3 separate regions of the Homo sapiens genome follow, and regions 1 and 3 are each linked to region 2. Evidence: fine-mapped expression QTL. A gene starts in region 2. Each other region holds a variant in brackets. All regions are shown on one strand. Distances are from middle to middle. Region 1 holds the start of KRT17 (keratin 17). Region 2 holds the start of DHX58 (DExH-box helicase 58). Region 3 overlaps RAB5C (RAB5C, member RAS oncogene family).

The links. PIP is the estimated chance that this variant, and not a neighbour inherited with it, causes the effect.
Region 1: its variant is the best candidate, but not a certain one, in a credible set for the expression of DHX58 in fibroblasts (GTEx, PIP 0.66).
Region 3: its variant is the best candidate, but not a certain one, in a credible set for the expression of DHX58 in breast (GTEx, PIP 0.66).

What each region holds. Positions count from the first base shown.
Region 1 is chr17:41,621,547-41,626,722 of GRCh38, forward strand. KRT17 (keratin 17) reads right to left here and starts at 3,029. Exons shown (of 8, transcript NM_000422.3): 1 at 2,532-3,029; 2 at 1,404-1,486; 3 at 809-965; 4 at 47-208. The coding sequence starts at 2,963. It also overlaps the pseudogene KRT42P. The variant A/T (reference allele first, on the strand shown) is at 2,954.
Region 2 is chr17:42,109,512-42,114,725 of GRCh38, forward strand. DHX58 (DExH-box helicase 58) reads right to left here and starts at 3,203. Exons shown (of 14, transcript NM_024119.3): 1 at 3,094-3,203; 2 at 2,602-2,694; 3 at 2,214-2,382; 4 at 1,785-1,986; 5 at 1,212-1,402. The coding sequence starts at 2,381. It overlaps KAT2A (lysine acetyltransferase 2A), which reads right to left. Exons shown (of 18, transcript NM_021078.3): 14 at 4,979-5,093; 15 at 4,847-4,883; 16 at 4,708-4,771; 17 at 4,489-4,573; 18 at 3,600-4,331. The coding sequence ends at 4,138. RefSeq lists enhancers at 2,711-2,810, 3,051-3,570.
Region 3 is chr17:42,135,196-42,140,409 of GRCh38, forward strand. The region is part of intron 1 of RAB5C (RAB5C, member RAS oncogene family); the gene reads right to left. Among named protein-coding and RNA genes, the nearest start is that of HSPB9, 15 kb to the left of the region's middle. The variant C/T (reference allele first, on the strand shown) is at 2,327.

The DNA.
Region 1 (5,176 bases), 490 kb before region 2:
GAGCCCCAGCCCCTAAGAGAGCCCTCTGGCCTGCAGCACCCCCCACCTTGCTGAAGAACCAATCCTCGGCATCCTTGCGGTTCTTCTCTGCCATCTTCTCATACTGGTCACGCATCTCGTTGAGGATGCGGCTCAGGTCCACGCCTGGGGCAGCGTCCATCTCCACATTGATCTCACCACCCACCTGGCCTCGCAGGGCGTTCATCTCCTATGGAAAAAGGGGATGTGGATGTGCGCATCTGGACCCATCCTGACCTCTCACTCCCAAGCCTTCCCCCACAAGGGGACCCCACTTCCCACAAGGACCCCTCCTTTGTTCTCCCTCTGCTCTATCTGACCCTCTAAATGATTTTTATTCATCTGCTCAGTATTGCCTCCACCATCAGACTCTATCTCCCCCATTAGACCAAGGACTCTCCAAAATAAAATCTAATTATTAGGCCTATGCCCCCAAAAGTTCCCCTCTAATTTCCAAGCTTCTATGTAGATGTTCAGCTTTGAGAGTTTGAAATGGGACAAGATTTCCTTACTTATCCCCCACCCTCATGAGGGAGGCAGGGTAGGTAGAGGGAGCCTCTGCAGGCCCCTGGGAGGTTCCTTGTGTACAGAGAAGCAGTGTGGTACAAAGAGGAGTCTGCCCTGCACACTGGACCCCAAGGATCAGGGCTCTGCAGACAGGGAAGCCCTCTAAGGTGACTAATCCCGGTGCACCTGCTCTGCTCTCTCCCACGGCCTCAGCCATTGCCCAGCCCCAGGGCTCTGCCACCCACTCCTCAGCATCTTTGACCTTCTGCCCCAGCCACCTCACCTCCTCGTGGTTCTTCTTCAGGTAGGCCAGCTCCTCCTTGAGGTTCTCAATCTGCATCTCCAGGTCGGCTCTGGCCAGGGTCAGCTCATCCAGCACCCTGCGCAGGCCATTGATGTCGGCCTCCACACTCAGGCGCAGGGCCTGCTCTGTCTCAAACCTGCCGTGGGAATCAGAGACTTCAGCCCAGGCTGCTTGGACCTGCAGATCCAGGTCCTGGCTGCTCACCTGCCTTCATTTTGCCAGGACTCTAAGGAGTTGGAAGGGCTGATGAGAGGGTCGAGTGGAAACGAATTCCAGCCCCGGGACCCCGGGACCATCACAGGGCCAGATCCCACGCCCACCAGCTTCCTTACTTCTCTCTGCCTCCCGCCTCCCGCCTCCCCTCCTTCTCTTCTATTCCCTGCCTAAGCTCAGCAACCTTCAGAACTGGCTGCCTTCACTGCATCCTGGACTAAGGAGTGGGGCTCCTAGGACTGCCCCACCCTGAGCTCCTGGGCCTTGCCACAAGCAACCAAGGAATCCTGGGGTCAGGAGGGGTACCCTGAGATCCTCCGCCAGCTGGCCCAGGCTGCCCAAGGCCACAGCTAGGACTCACTTGGTGCGGAAGTCATCAGCAGCCAGACGGGCATTGTCAATCTGTAGCAGGATGTTGGCATTGTCCACGGTGGCTGTGAGGATCTGAGGAGAAGGGAGAGTAGTCAGGTCATTGGATGGGGGTGGCTGAGCCCACACCAGGGTTCTGAGCAGATCTTCCTGCCTCAGGGCCTCTCTTCTCGCCCAGCCCCTCCCTTGCCCCGTGCTGTATTATTGGCAGAGGAGGGGCAAACAGGAGTCTGAAGGGCTGAAAGGTGCCTCTTCTTCCCCCGATACTCAGTACCCCACCAGACCCCCATGGCAGGCTCGGCCTTAAAGGAGAAGAGACAGCTGGCTGGGAGTATGAGGCAACCAGAAAAGAATGGGAAAATGTCCCCAGGGCAGAAGCTGTCCCAGAATTCTAGAACAAGGGAGGGGATGTGGGCAACCCCCTCGTTTTACAGTCAGCTAGAGGGTGCCCCTGACAGGCTCCCCCAAAAGGAGGCTAAAGGAGCCCTCATTAAAGAGTGGTTCCAAATCAAAAGTCAGGACCCCTCCTAATCCCTAACCCTGGGCGCCAGCCAGCAGCCCCGCCCCCTGGGGTTTGCTGAGCCCGTCTTAAGGGACAGCAGGAGGAAAGGAGAAGCCAGAAAAATCCCCAAATAAGGCACATCAGAGGCCTTCCCCACACTGAGGTCCCGCCCCCTCCTTTCTGCCTCCTCCTGCAGCAGGTGCTATCAGGAGCTCACTCAGACACCCCCACTCCACATCACCCAAAACCCCCTCCTGTTGACCCCTGCTCCAAAGGAGCAAGACACCACACATCCAGCAGCCCACGGGCCCAGCCCTCCATCTGCATCCTCCTGCCTCATCCTACAACCTCTCCAGGTGGCGGAGCTCCACGAGGGAGAAACTGAGGCTCCAAGGGGCTCCACAAGGCCTCTTTGTTCCTGACTCAGCTTGCTGTCCCCAGAAAAGGGGGATGTGAGCCACACAGGGGCCCCAAGGCAGGTTCCCAGAAGCTAAGCCACAGCCAAACCACCCTTGGCTCCCTGAGACCCTATGGCTGGACTCCAGGCCTTTGGCCAAGGCAGGAGTTGGGGGGAAGAAGTCATGCCCCCCGGAGACCCCTCCCACCAGCAGGCCCTACCTTGTTCTGCAGCTCCTCAATTGTCCTGTAGTACTGGCTGTAGTCACGGGCGGGCCCCGGGGCCTGCCTCTGGTACCAGTCACGGATCTTCACCTCCAGCTCAGTGTTGGCCTCCTCCAGGGCACGCACCTTGTCCAGGTAGGAGGCCAGGCGGTCATTGAGGTTCTGCATGGTGGCCTTCTCACCTCCAGCCAGCAGCCCATCAACACCCCCAAAGCTGCTGCCATAGCCACCACCAGAGCCAAAGCTGTAGCAGCTGGAGTAGCTGCTACCCCCGAGGGTGCTGCCCAGGCCGCCAGCAGATCCCAGCCTGCAGGAGCCGGCACCCAGGCCGCCAGACAGCCGGCAGGAGGTGCGGGACGAGCCGCCCCCCAGGCCGGAGGAGCCCTTGATGGAGCTGGAGGAGGTGAACTGGCGGATGG[A/T]GGTGGTCATGGTGGCGGCGGCAGGAGGCAGGCACACAGGAGAAGGGCTGGAGAGGAGAGGGGCCCCAAGTTGTGTAGGGCTGCCGGGGTTCGCCCGCTTCCTTTATAGGCCACCAAGTGGGCGTAGCGATTACAACAGGCTTGCTCCTCTGTTTCCATTCCCCTGGGCTTTCATCACCACTGGCCACCTGCCAGCTCCCAGGTGGCTGGGGGCCCCCTCCCCGCCCATCATCAGGAATTTGCCTCATTTCTCCAAATCCTCGTGCTGAGTGCCGTGCGTGTGCGTGCCTCTGGTCTCAGGCCCGTCACCTGTGATTCAGGCGGGCCCTCCAGCTATGCTTTCCCATGACCTAATACGGAGAAGAGGAGAAGGCAGGACGTCACCGTCCCCAGGCCCTCCCAGGCAGCCACCACCCCAGCCTGGCCCGCCTCAACCCTGTCTGGTGGGGAAATGGGTTGCAGTGTCAGCTGACCCCCCCGCCAAAGTTGCTGTCTTTCACCCCACACTGCTCCACCCACGGTGCTGGCCCCGGGGCTGGGTGCTGAAGAGAAAGAGGAGACCGAGAGCCTATCCTGCCTTGGAAACTGAGCCCAAACCCACCAGGCCCACCTCACAGCATAGAAATGCCATCAAGCCTCGGAGACCAACCCACATCACAGATAAAGAAATTGGGGCTCCAGAGGGGTGCCGTGTCCACACTGGCCCCTTCTGCAGAGCCTGACACCCAGGAATGCACTCTAGGGGCTACAGTTCCATCCAGTCAGCTTCTGACCCTGCCCCATCCCTAGAAATCCTTGCTAACCCAGTCTCTTCGTGTAAACCTTTCCCCAGGTTTACACTCCAGGCTGGGGTGGGCAAACAGGGGCTCAGCTATAGGATGGGGAAATGGTGGGCTGTGCCAACTGAGAGGGGGATGCCCCCTTCCACTCCCCTCACCCTTCTGTACCCCAAGAGACCTCAGGGTCAGGTGACGGGTATTTATCTCAGGTCTCAGCCCACAGGAAACCTAAAGGACATTGCCCAAGAAGAGGCTCTTACAGAGACCCCAGCCAGCCCCCTTCCCACTCCAGGCTCCCCAAGATGTGGCTCCTCAGGTGGGCCATGTGCCCCACCCCACAGCCCCACCCTGCCCTGCCCACCACCCCAAGCCCGGCCCTGGGTCCCAGGGTCCCGCCAGGCCCGCTGGGTGGAATGTGGTCATGTTTCAGACTGCCGATGGCTTCCACTTCCCAGACAGGCCCAGACGGCCCCGCCAGCAGCCGAGAGACATTCCTCAATAGCCCAGTGGCTGCCAAGCCACCAAAGCAAACAGGATGCCCCCTACGCGTACACGCACAGCGGCCACCCCGCCCCACACACACCCCGAGCTGGGGCAGAGCCGGTCTGGTTTCCTGGGCTGGCTGCGTCACTGCCATGCCCTCTCACTCATCAATGCCATGGACCACTCCTTCAGAAGCCCCTCCCCACCAAGCCCCTCTCCTTCTGCTCTTGAACCCGCCCTGGGCTGAGGCAGGGAGTGCTCCCCAACAGGCACCATCCTTGGAAAGTCTGTGTGGCCCTCCCAGGGACCAGCCACAGGTGACAGGGACTCAGGGGCTGATTCTTAGAAACTTTTCCCAATACAAGGGGCTGTCCCATCCCTCCACCCTTAATCTTTCCGCCTCCTCCCCTCTCATCTTTCCAGGAGCCCCAGGCCTGGATGGAGTGGGCAGAACAGATTGGCAGGTGACAAGCCCATACCCAAACACTCAATAAACTCCACCTCCCCCAGTCCCTCAGCCCACACTGCCCCAAACCAATGAGCAGATCAGATCACACGAGGCATTGAACTTGGAGCAAAGCTTTAATAGTAGGCACTGGACAAACCCAGGAGGCCTCCTCAGTGAGGGGCTGCAGAAAGTAGATACAGAAAGACAACAGGCCATGCACCGGGGCCCAGACGGACACTCGGGGCGTGGCAGTAGCATGCTGGGAGCTGGAGCTGATGGCTGTGCCGTGGCCCTCGAGGTGGGGCTGTCGCAGACAGAAAGGGGTCTCAGTGGGTGGAGAAGTGGACCTGCTCACAGAAGAAGACCACCTCTCCAACCTGGACTTCCTCCACGATGGCACACCTGGTGGCTGGTCACTGTGGCTGCAGGCGATGGAGGAGGGAGGCACAGGGAACATCAGGCAGGAGCTCTTCCCCCCGCCTGCCCCCGCGTCTGTGGTCCCCCCAGTCTCCC
Region 2 (5,214 bases):
CGCCCTCTCTGTGCCCGTCTTGTTCTAGGCACTGGGGATACAAAGGAACTCAGATTGGAGTTGGAGAGGCAGATAATAAACCAGTAAAAGAATAATAGAACCGGCCAGGCATGGTGGCTCACACCTGTAATCCCAGCACTTTGGGAGGCCAAGGCGGGCGGGTCACCTGAGGTCAGGAGTTTGAGACAGCCTGGCCAACGTGGTGAAACCCCACCTCTACTAAAAATACAAAAATTAGCCAGGCATGGTGGCACGCGCCTGTAGTCTCAGCTACTCGGGAGGCTGAGACAGAAGAATCACTTGAACCCGGGAGGTGGAGGTTGCAGTGAGCCAAGATCGTGCCACTGCACTCCAGCCTGGGTAACAGAGACTCCGTCTCAAAAAAAAAAAAAGAGGCTGGGCACAGTGGCTCACGCCTGTAATCCCAGCACTATGGGAGGCCAAGGCAGGTGAATCACGAGGTCAGGAGTTCGAGACCAGCATGGCCAACACGGTGAAACCCCGTCTCTACTAAAAATACAAAAAATTAGCTGGGCATAGTGGTGGGTGCCTGTAATCCCAGCTACTCGGGAGGCTGAGGCAGGAGAATCGCTTGAACCTGGGAGGCGGAGGTTGCAGGGAGCCGAAATCATGCCACTGCCCTCCAGCCTGGGCGACAGAGTGAGACTCCATCTCAAAAAAAAAAAAAAAAAAGAAAACAATAAAACCTTGCAGAGCGCATTAACAAGCTCTGAAGAGGATAGCACTGGATGATATGACAGAGAGCAGAGATCAGGGAGGACTTTCAAGAGGTGGCATTAAGCTGTTCAATGAATGACAAGGAGGAGGCAGCAGGAAAAGTTCAAAGGGAAGCGCATTCTAGGCAAAAGAAATGGTAAATGCAAAGGTCCCCGAGATGGAACAAGCCCTACATGTTCAACATGCAGAAGGCAGGCCAGTGTAACTGTAGGATGAGCTACAACAGGGAGGGCGCAGGAAATGAGGTGGAGAGGTAGATCACGTGGAACTTTGTAAACCACAGTAGAGTCGGGAGTTAATTCTTTGTACCATAAGAAACCATTGGAGGCTGGGTCTTAGGTGAGGAAGGGGCCAGACCCTGCCATGGAGAGCCTGGTAGGGCTGGTGGGGACGGGGTAGTGGCAGGGCAGGCAGGGAGGGAGGGAAGTCCCTGGTGGGTCTGGCAGTGGGAGGCCCACAGGGGCCAGGCTGACCTGCAGGACGTGGTTGATGGCCCCATCGAGTTTGGAGGCCCCGCCAGTGCCTGGGGAGGCTGTGAGACCCAGCACCTGGGGTAGCGGCTGTGCCCTCTGGAGTTTAAGTTCTAGGTACTGGCTCATGATGACGTTGTAGACGGTGTCCTTGTGCGTGTGGTGGCACTCATCCACCACGATCAGGGAGAAGACTGAGGGCACAGGGGGGAAGGCTGTGACCTATGTTTGCAAAGCCCTTCCTCCCATCAGCTTTCAAGTAGTCCCCACAATGATGTAAGAATTCCTTCTTCCCTTCACAACCTGCAGCTGGTCCCAGGATGAGGAGCCAGGCAGGGAAGACTTCTTTCCATTTCACAGATTAGTAAACCGAGGCTCAGCTGGGGAAGGGACTGGCCTAAGATCCTACACGATAGCCCGGCCTGTTTCTACTAGAGTGCCTGCAGGGGTTTTGTGAACAGGCAACCCCTCACTCCCACTAAAACTCCCAACACCTTGACTCCAGGAGGTGCCCTGGGGTTGGCGAAAGGAGGTACCCCAGATGCGTATCTTTTTCCTCCCGGCCATGGCCCTCACCAGTGAGCTCCACGTGCTCCTCCTCCTCGGGGCTGGTCAGTGCCATCTGCAGAAGCTCTGCTGTGCAGATGAGCAGGTCATGGCACCGGGCCAGGTGGCCAAAGCCAGCACGTGGTCCCATGTCCCCACTCAGGGTTGTCACGGTCCAGCGTCCATCCAGCATGCGCCTGAACTCTTCACCATGCTGGGTCACCAGGTGCACCTGGGGGTGGAGAATGAGCTGGGAAAAGAGAGCTGAATCTGGGGCCAGGGGTAGGGAGGCGGTAAGGTGACCCGCAGGACATGGCTGGGTACTGAGCCAGGGTGGAAAGACAGGTGAGCTTAGCGATGGCCACAGCAGCTTTGGAGTTCTGGTGGGGACTGGGAGATGCCTGAAGAGCTAAGACCCTGCTTGGTGGTGGGAGAGCGGGGTAGGGACAGACCACTCACCCTGTTGACCAATACAACCACCTTGGCTCCATCCACAGTCTCTAGGTGCCGCTTGGCCACATAAGCAGCCGCCCGGGTCTTCCCGGCACCCGTGGGCAGCCAGATGATGATATTCTTGCCCTCCAGGGCAGGCATGATCACCTCCCATTGGTAGGACCGAAGCTCCATTCTGGGAATGGCAGGGGACTCAGACCCACCGACTCCTCCACCCCTCCCAACTCCTGGCCAGACCAGTCAGTACAGAGACCTCCCTTTGCCCAGGACTCCACCCCACTTGAGGGAGGTGGGGCAGGACTCCCTCAGAACCCATCAGGACCCTGCTCTGCCCAAAAGGGGGAGGCGGGAGTAACACAGGCTACACCTGCCCCCTGCCCAGCCCAGGACTCACCTGCTCTAGTAGGTAGGTCTGCCCAGGGCAGTCCCACTTAACTCAGCCTGGTGCCACTCTGCTCAGCTCAGAGACCCAAGATGGAAACTGAAACTGAGGGAAGGAGCCAGCTGAGCCGACTTAGGAATCTCCCATCCCCGCCCCAGGAAAAAGAACCAAGAGAAAAGAACCGTTTGTGCTAACAGTCATCGCCAACTGCCGTGAGTACAAACTCCGGTTAAGTACTGCTGCTGCGCCAGCGCCCTGGCAGGCATGATCACCTCCCATTGGTAGGGCCACAGCTCCATTCTGGGAATGGCAGGGGACTCAGACCCACTGGGCCCTCCACTCATCCCAACTCCTGGCCAGAGCAGTCGGTACAGAGACCTCCCTTTGCCCAGGACTCCACCCCACTTGAGGGAGGTGGGGGGGGGGACACCCTCAAAACTCATCAGAAGCCTGCTGTGGCCAAAAGGTGGGGGTGGGGGGGGGTGGGAGTAACACAGGCTACACCTGCGCCTTGCCCAGCCTGGGTCTCGCCTGCACCACCACGTAGGCCTGCCCAAGGCGGCCCTGCTTAGCTCAGCCTGGTGCCGCTGTGCTCAGCGCAGAGAGCAGAAATCAGAAATGGAAACTGAAACTGAGGGGAGGAGCCAGCTGAGCCGACTTACGAATCTCCTATCCCTGCCCCAAGAAAAAGAACCACGTGTGCTAACAGGGAAGCACTCTTTCAGTGCTACAGGATCCTCTACGCTCTGGCCCTTCTGCAGTCAGTTGTAACCACATCCACCCAGGTTAAGGTGAAGGCAGGAGGTTCTGACCCCTGCTGCCCTGGCATCTGGATCAGGAGCAGCCTGGAGGAGGGAGAGGTGGGGGGCTGCAGGCAGGTAGGACCCATCACCCCAGGAGCACAGGACCAGGCCTGAGGCTTGCTGGGGAGAGCAGCCTCCAGTTTGCAAGAGGTCCCTGGGGGCCAAGGTGAGCCTGCTAAGGCTGGGACTACACCAAAGAAACAATCACACAGAGAAATAAAAAGCTTTATTATTCCCTCTAAGGGATTAATGCCAGGGAATGAATGGTCCCCATACCCCCCACCCCTGGGGGAGACTGACAGAACAGTGCTGGACAAGGCATGGCCCCCTTCAGTTTGGGCTGAACTTCCAACCCCTGAAGCCATCACTCAAGCTAAAATGAGCAGTTCTGGTCCTCAGGGAAACAGCCACCTGGGCCAGGCCCAGGAATCCAAGCCTCCAAAGCTCTTGGGGACCAGGCCTGGGGGCCACCACGGCTGGGCAAGGTTCATCCCTGGCCACCAGCTACTCTAGAGGGGCTGGGCCCCAACCCAGGAGACCTCTCACACACAGTGAAGGCTGGGACAGAGCTGCACGCTTGGGGGTGCCTGAAGGTCCAGAAAGAGCTGCAGGATCGGGTCCGGAGGACCCTTGGCTGGAGTGTCTCAAGCTGAGTCGGGTCCGTGGGGCCAGGGCACCCCCTAAGGATCAGATCAGAATCCGAGGTGGAGACATTCCAGGTCAGGGCTGCGGCCCAAAGATGGGCCTACTTGTCAATGAGGCCTCCCTCCTTGAGCTTGAAGTAGAAGAACTTCTCCAGGGCGCTGGCACAGCGGCAGTACTCGCTGTCCGGGGGGTTGTACTCGCGACAGTTGGCGATGACCCGCTGCAGGTCGGCCACAAAGAGCTTCCGGGTCACGTAGTAGCGGCTTCGCAGCCGCTCAGTCATGGTCTTCAGGTCTGGGGCAGCAGGAGACGGAGCACAGCTTTAAGAGGCTGAAGACCACGGCAGGGCTGTCCACCAGGGTGGGCCCCCTGGGGCTGCAGGGCGCAGTGAGGGCAGGAGCAGGTGTGGGGACAGAAGAGGAGGGAAGGGGATGGAATGGAAGGTCCTCACCAATGGGGAAGCGGATGACCTCGTAGTAGTCAGGGGCCTCCGACTTCTTCACAGGCTCCATGAAGGGCCAGGCACTGGGGTGAGACTGGAGAGAAGAGCCGGGCTGGGGACAGCCCTGCTGCGCCCACGCCAGCCCGAGACCACTACCCACCCCACACTGCATCAAGAGGCCACAGCCATTGGTGCAGGGGCCCTGGAAAGGAAACCTGGTCTCCCCACCTTGATTTGGGCCAGCAGGTTTTTGAGGGTTGTGTAGAGCTGGTCGGGGTCCTTCAGCTCCTTCCTGGGGCGAGAGACACCAAGTCTGAGGCTCCAAGTCCCTCTGCCCCACCCCCAACCCGGCTCCTTTGACACTCACCCCTTCTCCTTCCCCAATGGCTTCCAGCCTGTCTCTCCTGCAAAGTGGGAAGTGGGAGAATGTCTCTAAGAATGCCAGTCCACACCCCAAGCATCGTGCCCCCACTACCCTGCAACTGAGACCCCTGCTTACGAATGCCAGGAACGCTCTCCACAGGGATCTGCCTCACGCCCTCCTTGAAGCAGCTGAGCCCCGGGTAGACCTTGCGGATCTGGGCCTGTTTGCGCTCAATCAGCTTCTTGATGATCTGAGGGAAGGAAGGGACTGAGGGGCCAACTCCAGCCCCAACAACAACCCCTCCCAGGGCCACAGTCGGAGCCACTGGCTGCACCCACCCAGCTGCAACGCCACCTAATCCAGCACCTCCC
Region 3 (5,214 bases), 26 kb after region 2:
GCTGGTATCAAACTCCTGCCTCAACCTCCAAAAGTGCTGGGATTACAGGTGTGAGCCACCTGTAATTTTTTTTTTTTTTTTTTGGAGATAGAGTCTCACTGTTGCCCAGGCTAGAGCAGTGATGCAATCACGATTCACTGCAGCCTTGACCTCCCAGGCTCAAGTGATCCTTCTATTTCAGCCTCCAGTCAAACTCTTCTTCACCAGAATCACCCAGGGCCTTTAGAAAATACCCTGACCAACTGAATTAGAATCTCTAGAGGTGGAGTCCAGAAATCAGTATTTTAAAAATAAGTTCCCAGTGATTTTAAGCAGTTGATCGAAGCACAAGAGCTACAGTTGATATACGAAGGAGGGAGAAATCCAAGAGACAGAAAGGCACCCCCGATCAGTGCTGTGCACAACTCGTAAGTGTGCATGTGTAAGTCCATGAATGTGGGAGGGGTCTTCAGCTTCACTCAGCAACTGGAGCCTTCTCCAAGACACTAGATGCTGCTGCAATTCCTCCCCCTAACCTCCCTTTGAAAGTTTCACCTTTCCTCTAATCCACGAAGTCACCCACTTCATATGTTTTGTCCTTCCTGGTAAAAGGGTGAGCAATTCCAGCTGATGAGTGTCTCGTGTACTTCCTGTTTGCTTTAGAGACTTCCTCTAGCTGAGAGTCCTGGCACAGCCTGGAGAGCAAGCTGATTAGGGAAACCAATCAGACTGTTGACCAGGGCAGGCGGGGCGTAGAGACTAGCTCACTCAAGGTTAGCCAGGTGGCCTGAGAACCAAGTGACCCCGCCCAGGGTCCCCTGCAGGTGCTTCTGACCAGTGACTCTTCAGCTACATTTTACCCCGGAAAAGGGCATTCCTGAATATTTAAACAAGAGTCCAGCAAAACAAAACAAAATCAAACCAAAAAAACAACAGCAGAAAGGAGTTGTTAAAGAAAATGGAGCAAGAGACACAGGAGGAAGTAACTCGGTTCAAAGGCTAAAGTGGAAGACATTTGATTTAAAAGCCAACTGGAGTCAAGGTTTTGCAAATGCTTCCCAGGCTCCGATTAGTTGGGGAGATGATTTACCCATAGGCTCAAGAACACAGCTCTTCCTCAAAAGGGAAAACCACTGCCAGCACACAGAAACAGAGGACAGACTCACAGCAGGACTATCCAGGCTTCTAGCTGGTTGCAGACCCAGAGGAAAGAAGAATCTGAAGCAACGCCAGCCACGATCCACACGAGGTACCCACAACCTTCCCCAGCGTGGCTAGCAGGTTAGGACTTGGGAGGCTGAGCCGGGTTTGGTTCAAGCTCCACTCCACCGTTTATTAGCCGTGTGACCTTGGCCAAGTCACACAAGTGATCATTATCAGCTTCAGTTCCTTATCTAAAAATTGGTATTCTTTAATACTAATTGCATGGGGTAGTTCAGATCAAGTGAAACAATGCACCACAGTATCAGGCTGAAGGTGAGCTTTCAACAAGTGGCAGGTTTATTACCCCAGAGGCTAGAATTGGTAGTCAGAGCCCAAAAGGGCCTTAAAGACCCCATCCTACTGTTGACAATTAAAGAAAAAAAATGAAGGTGAGGAGAAGTGACCTGCCTAGGGTCACACAGCCAGCTAGCTGGTGGCAGAGCCCAAGCCTGCCCAAGACTCATAACTCAAGCAAGGCTCTCCTATTAGAGATAGAAAGAAAAACCCCAGAATATTAACAATCTCATTACCATAACCCCTGTTACTAAAAATAACAGGGACTGCGACCTTCTATGCATGTTTTTAAAAAATGTAGCTTTTAGCTAGGAAAAAATGAGTTTCTATCAAACTGAAAAAAGCACATTGCCGCCGGGTGAGGTGGCTCATGCCTGTAATCCCAGCACTTTGGGAGGCTGAGGTGGGTGGATCACCTGAGGTCAGGAGTTGGAGACCAGCCTGTCCAACCTGGTGAAACCCCGACTGTACTAAAAATACAAAAATTAGCTGGGTGTGGTGGCTGGCACCTGTAATCCCAGCTACTTGGGAGGCTGAGGCAGGAGAATCACTTGAACCCAGGAGACAGAGGTTGTGGTGAGCGAAGATCGCACCATTGCACTCCAGCCTGGACAACAGAGCGAGACACTGTCTCAAAAAAAAGAAAAAAAAAAAAAAGCACACTGCTGGATGGAGGAGTTATAACTTGATTTGAGAGGTAAATACATGAGTGTATAATAATATAAAAACCCATCGAGCTGTATTTACAATTTGTAAACTATTATACATAAGTCACATGTCAATAAAAAGGTTAAAAAATGCTGCTGGTATAGAATTTTGCATATAATCATGAAAAGTTAAAGCTTGGAAA[C/T]GATATGAATGCAATCTAGCTCCTCTGTATATAAAATATTTTCTGCCTCTTTAGTATGAAGAAAATAATATTAAAGACAATCAAGGGCCGGGCACGGTGGCTCACGCCTATAATCCCAGCGCTTTGGGAGGCTGAGGCGGGTGGATCATGAGGTCAAGAGATCGACACCATCCCGGCCAACATGGTGAAACCCCGTCTCTACTAAAAATACAAAAATTAGCTGGGCGTGGTGGCGCATACCTGTAGTCCCAGCTACTCGGGAGGCTGAGGCAGGAGAATCGCTTGAACCCGGGAGGCAGAGGTTGCACTGAGCTGAGATAGTGCCACTGCACTCCGGCCTGGCGAGAGAGCGAGACTCTGTCTCAAAAAAAAAAAAGACAATCAAAAAGATGATACCTGAATTGGAAAAGACCAACGGAGAACAAAGATACCCAAATGTTAAACACAAATAAGGTGCAAGACAATGGGATTCCTCATAAAAAATAAGATTCCCACATATATATTAAGGATATATTTACTGTTTGGGCTTAACTGTGGGCTAAAGGATTTTCAAGTGGTTTAAAGCTTCACAATAATAAAGAGAAACTGATATTTATGTCTTTTCGATGGGGAGAAAGAGGTTATAACAGTATGATATTCTCCACTCCCCAACCAGTCTAGAGTATATCTGCAGAGGAAAGGGGGGTTTAGGGGTTGGGGGATGGAATCAAAGAGAAGGGTGTCCTCTGTGTGACCAGGCCTATGGAACTGCTTCACACAGGGCCTGTGTCTTACCTAAGAGTCTAACAGGGGAAGCTTGGCCCTGGCCCTGGAAGCCAGAAGCTTAAGAGCCCAGGGTGAGATCTAGCCGAATCCCAATGGGGGGTGTTGCAACAGGGTGGGCTCCACCTCCCACCTTCAGGAGGTCCAGCTCTTAAACCTAGACTTGGGGGAGGCAGCAGTAGGGAGGAAGGTGCTGCCTTTCCACAGCCACAGGAAGATGACCCTTTTTCCAGCGGAAAGGGAAGTAAATTATCCCAGAGGGGCACTGAAGGTGAGCTGGGTCCCCTTCCACAGGGAAAGCACCCCCACCTTCCTTAACTGAGATTGGTTTCATTTCATTCTTTTTTCAATAAGATTTCTGAGGCTTAGTGCCTAGACTTCCACACCACAATCAGGCCCTGATGGGGTCCACCAGAGCCCCAAGTGCAGACACCAACTCCACCAATACCTGCAAAAGGGGCCAGTGTGCAGAGGCATCAAGAGGCTTAAAGCCTGGATACACATTACCAAGTGATCTTTAATAAACACTATGCAGACTGAGCCTGGAACTTTGCTGAAGTCAGCCAGGACAGAGCACAGCTGGCTCCTGCAGCCCTTTCCCTTGTGTGGGAAGTCTTGTATCACTTAGGACAGATGCCAAGCTCACTCGGGTGGAAGACACCCCTGAGGGACAGACCCTTAGCTTTCCAGGACTCTACCCCAGCAGAACACCATGAAATCCTTCCCTGATCCCTGAGCTTCTTCCCAGCTCTCAATGACAGATGGGTTCTCTGGAGAGGCTCAGAGAGGAGCAGTCAGGGCTGGATGGAAACCTCCAGCATCCACTCCCTCTTTCTGCACCCACAGGGAGGAAGACTATTGGGGTGGGAGGACATCTCCATGGATCTGCTAGCACAGCTTGGCCAGTGTGGTCGGCCAGTGCTGTCCACAGAAGGGCCCCAGGCTTCATGGGCAGCTCAACAACTCTCAGTCATTGGCCCTGCTGGCCAACAGAGGAGACAGGTAGCACGGAAGGCCCACAGACAGGGCACTGCCTGCAGCTGCACCAGGCAAGGCTCTCCGCCAGCCTACCGATTCCAAAAGGCACCAGGGGGGCCAGGCCCTAACGCTGACATTCCTGAGACTGTTCTCCCTAAGAGGGCCCAGTGTCTAACAGCACACCTCAGTCAGCAAGGTTGTGGCAGATTCTTTTTTTTTGAGACGGAATCTTGCTCTGTCACCCAGGTTGGAGTGCAGTGGCGTGATCTCGGCTCACTGCAACCTCCAGCTCCCAGGTTCAAGCAATTCTGCCTCAGCCTCCTGAGTAGCTAGGACTACATACGCGTGCCACCACATCCAGCTAATTTTTTGTATTTTTTAGTAGAGATGGGGTTTCACCATGTTAGTCAGGATGGTCTCGATTTCCTGACCTTGTGATCCAGGCTGTGCCAGATTCTCTACTCCTGTCTAGGGCTGCTCTCTCAAGCCTCAAGCAAAAGCTCAACTTGGAATCTTTCTGCAGCCCAGAACCACACACACGTCCCAGCCACAGGGCTTGTTAGGGATGACAACATGGCTGTATGGTGGCTCACACGCCACCAGTCAGTTCTTCACCTGCCAATGCCAGGCAGGATGCTAGGAAGAGTGCCATCCAAGGCAAAGGTTCTTCTGGCCCCAGCCTACCCCAACTATCCTGTATTTCATTTGTTCAGGCAGTTACTATTTAGCTAGGACATTTCTCACCGGAATCTCATCAATGTAGGGCCCGTCTTCCCCCCGTCTCAAAAGGGGCTCTGCAGGGGTCAGAAGCACCAGCCAGGACAGCTGCCACTTCTGCTGCTTCCCTAGGCCCAGAAAGACTCCAGAAACCTCTGCTGAAAGTCAGGATCAGAAGCAGCACCTGTTCATCCAGCCACTCACACCAGCGGACACCTCTCCAAAACCCTTCCCGCCCTTACAAATAACAGAAAACAAAAGAAAGCCAGTTTAAATCACTGCCCCTTTGTTTTGCCTTCAGCTCCTAAACAGAGAGCAGAGGTCAAGTTTGAGAGGAAAGTGGGAGAAAAGAGAAATAGCAATCCAAATGCCTCCTGTTCAGACACCACACACACCGTGGTCAGCGGCTATGCAACCAACAAGAAAAAAGT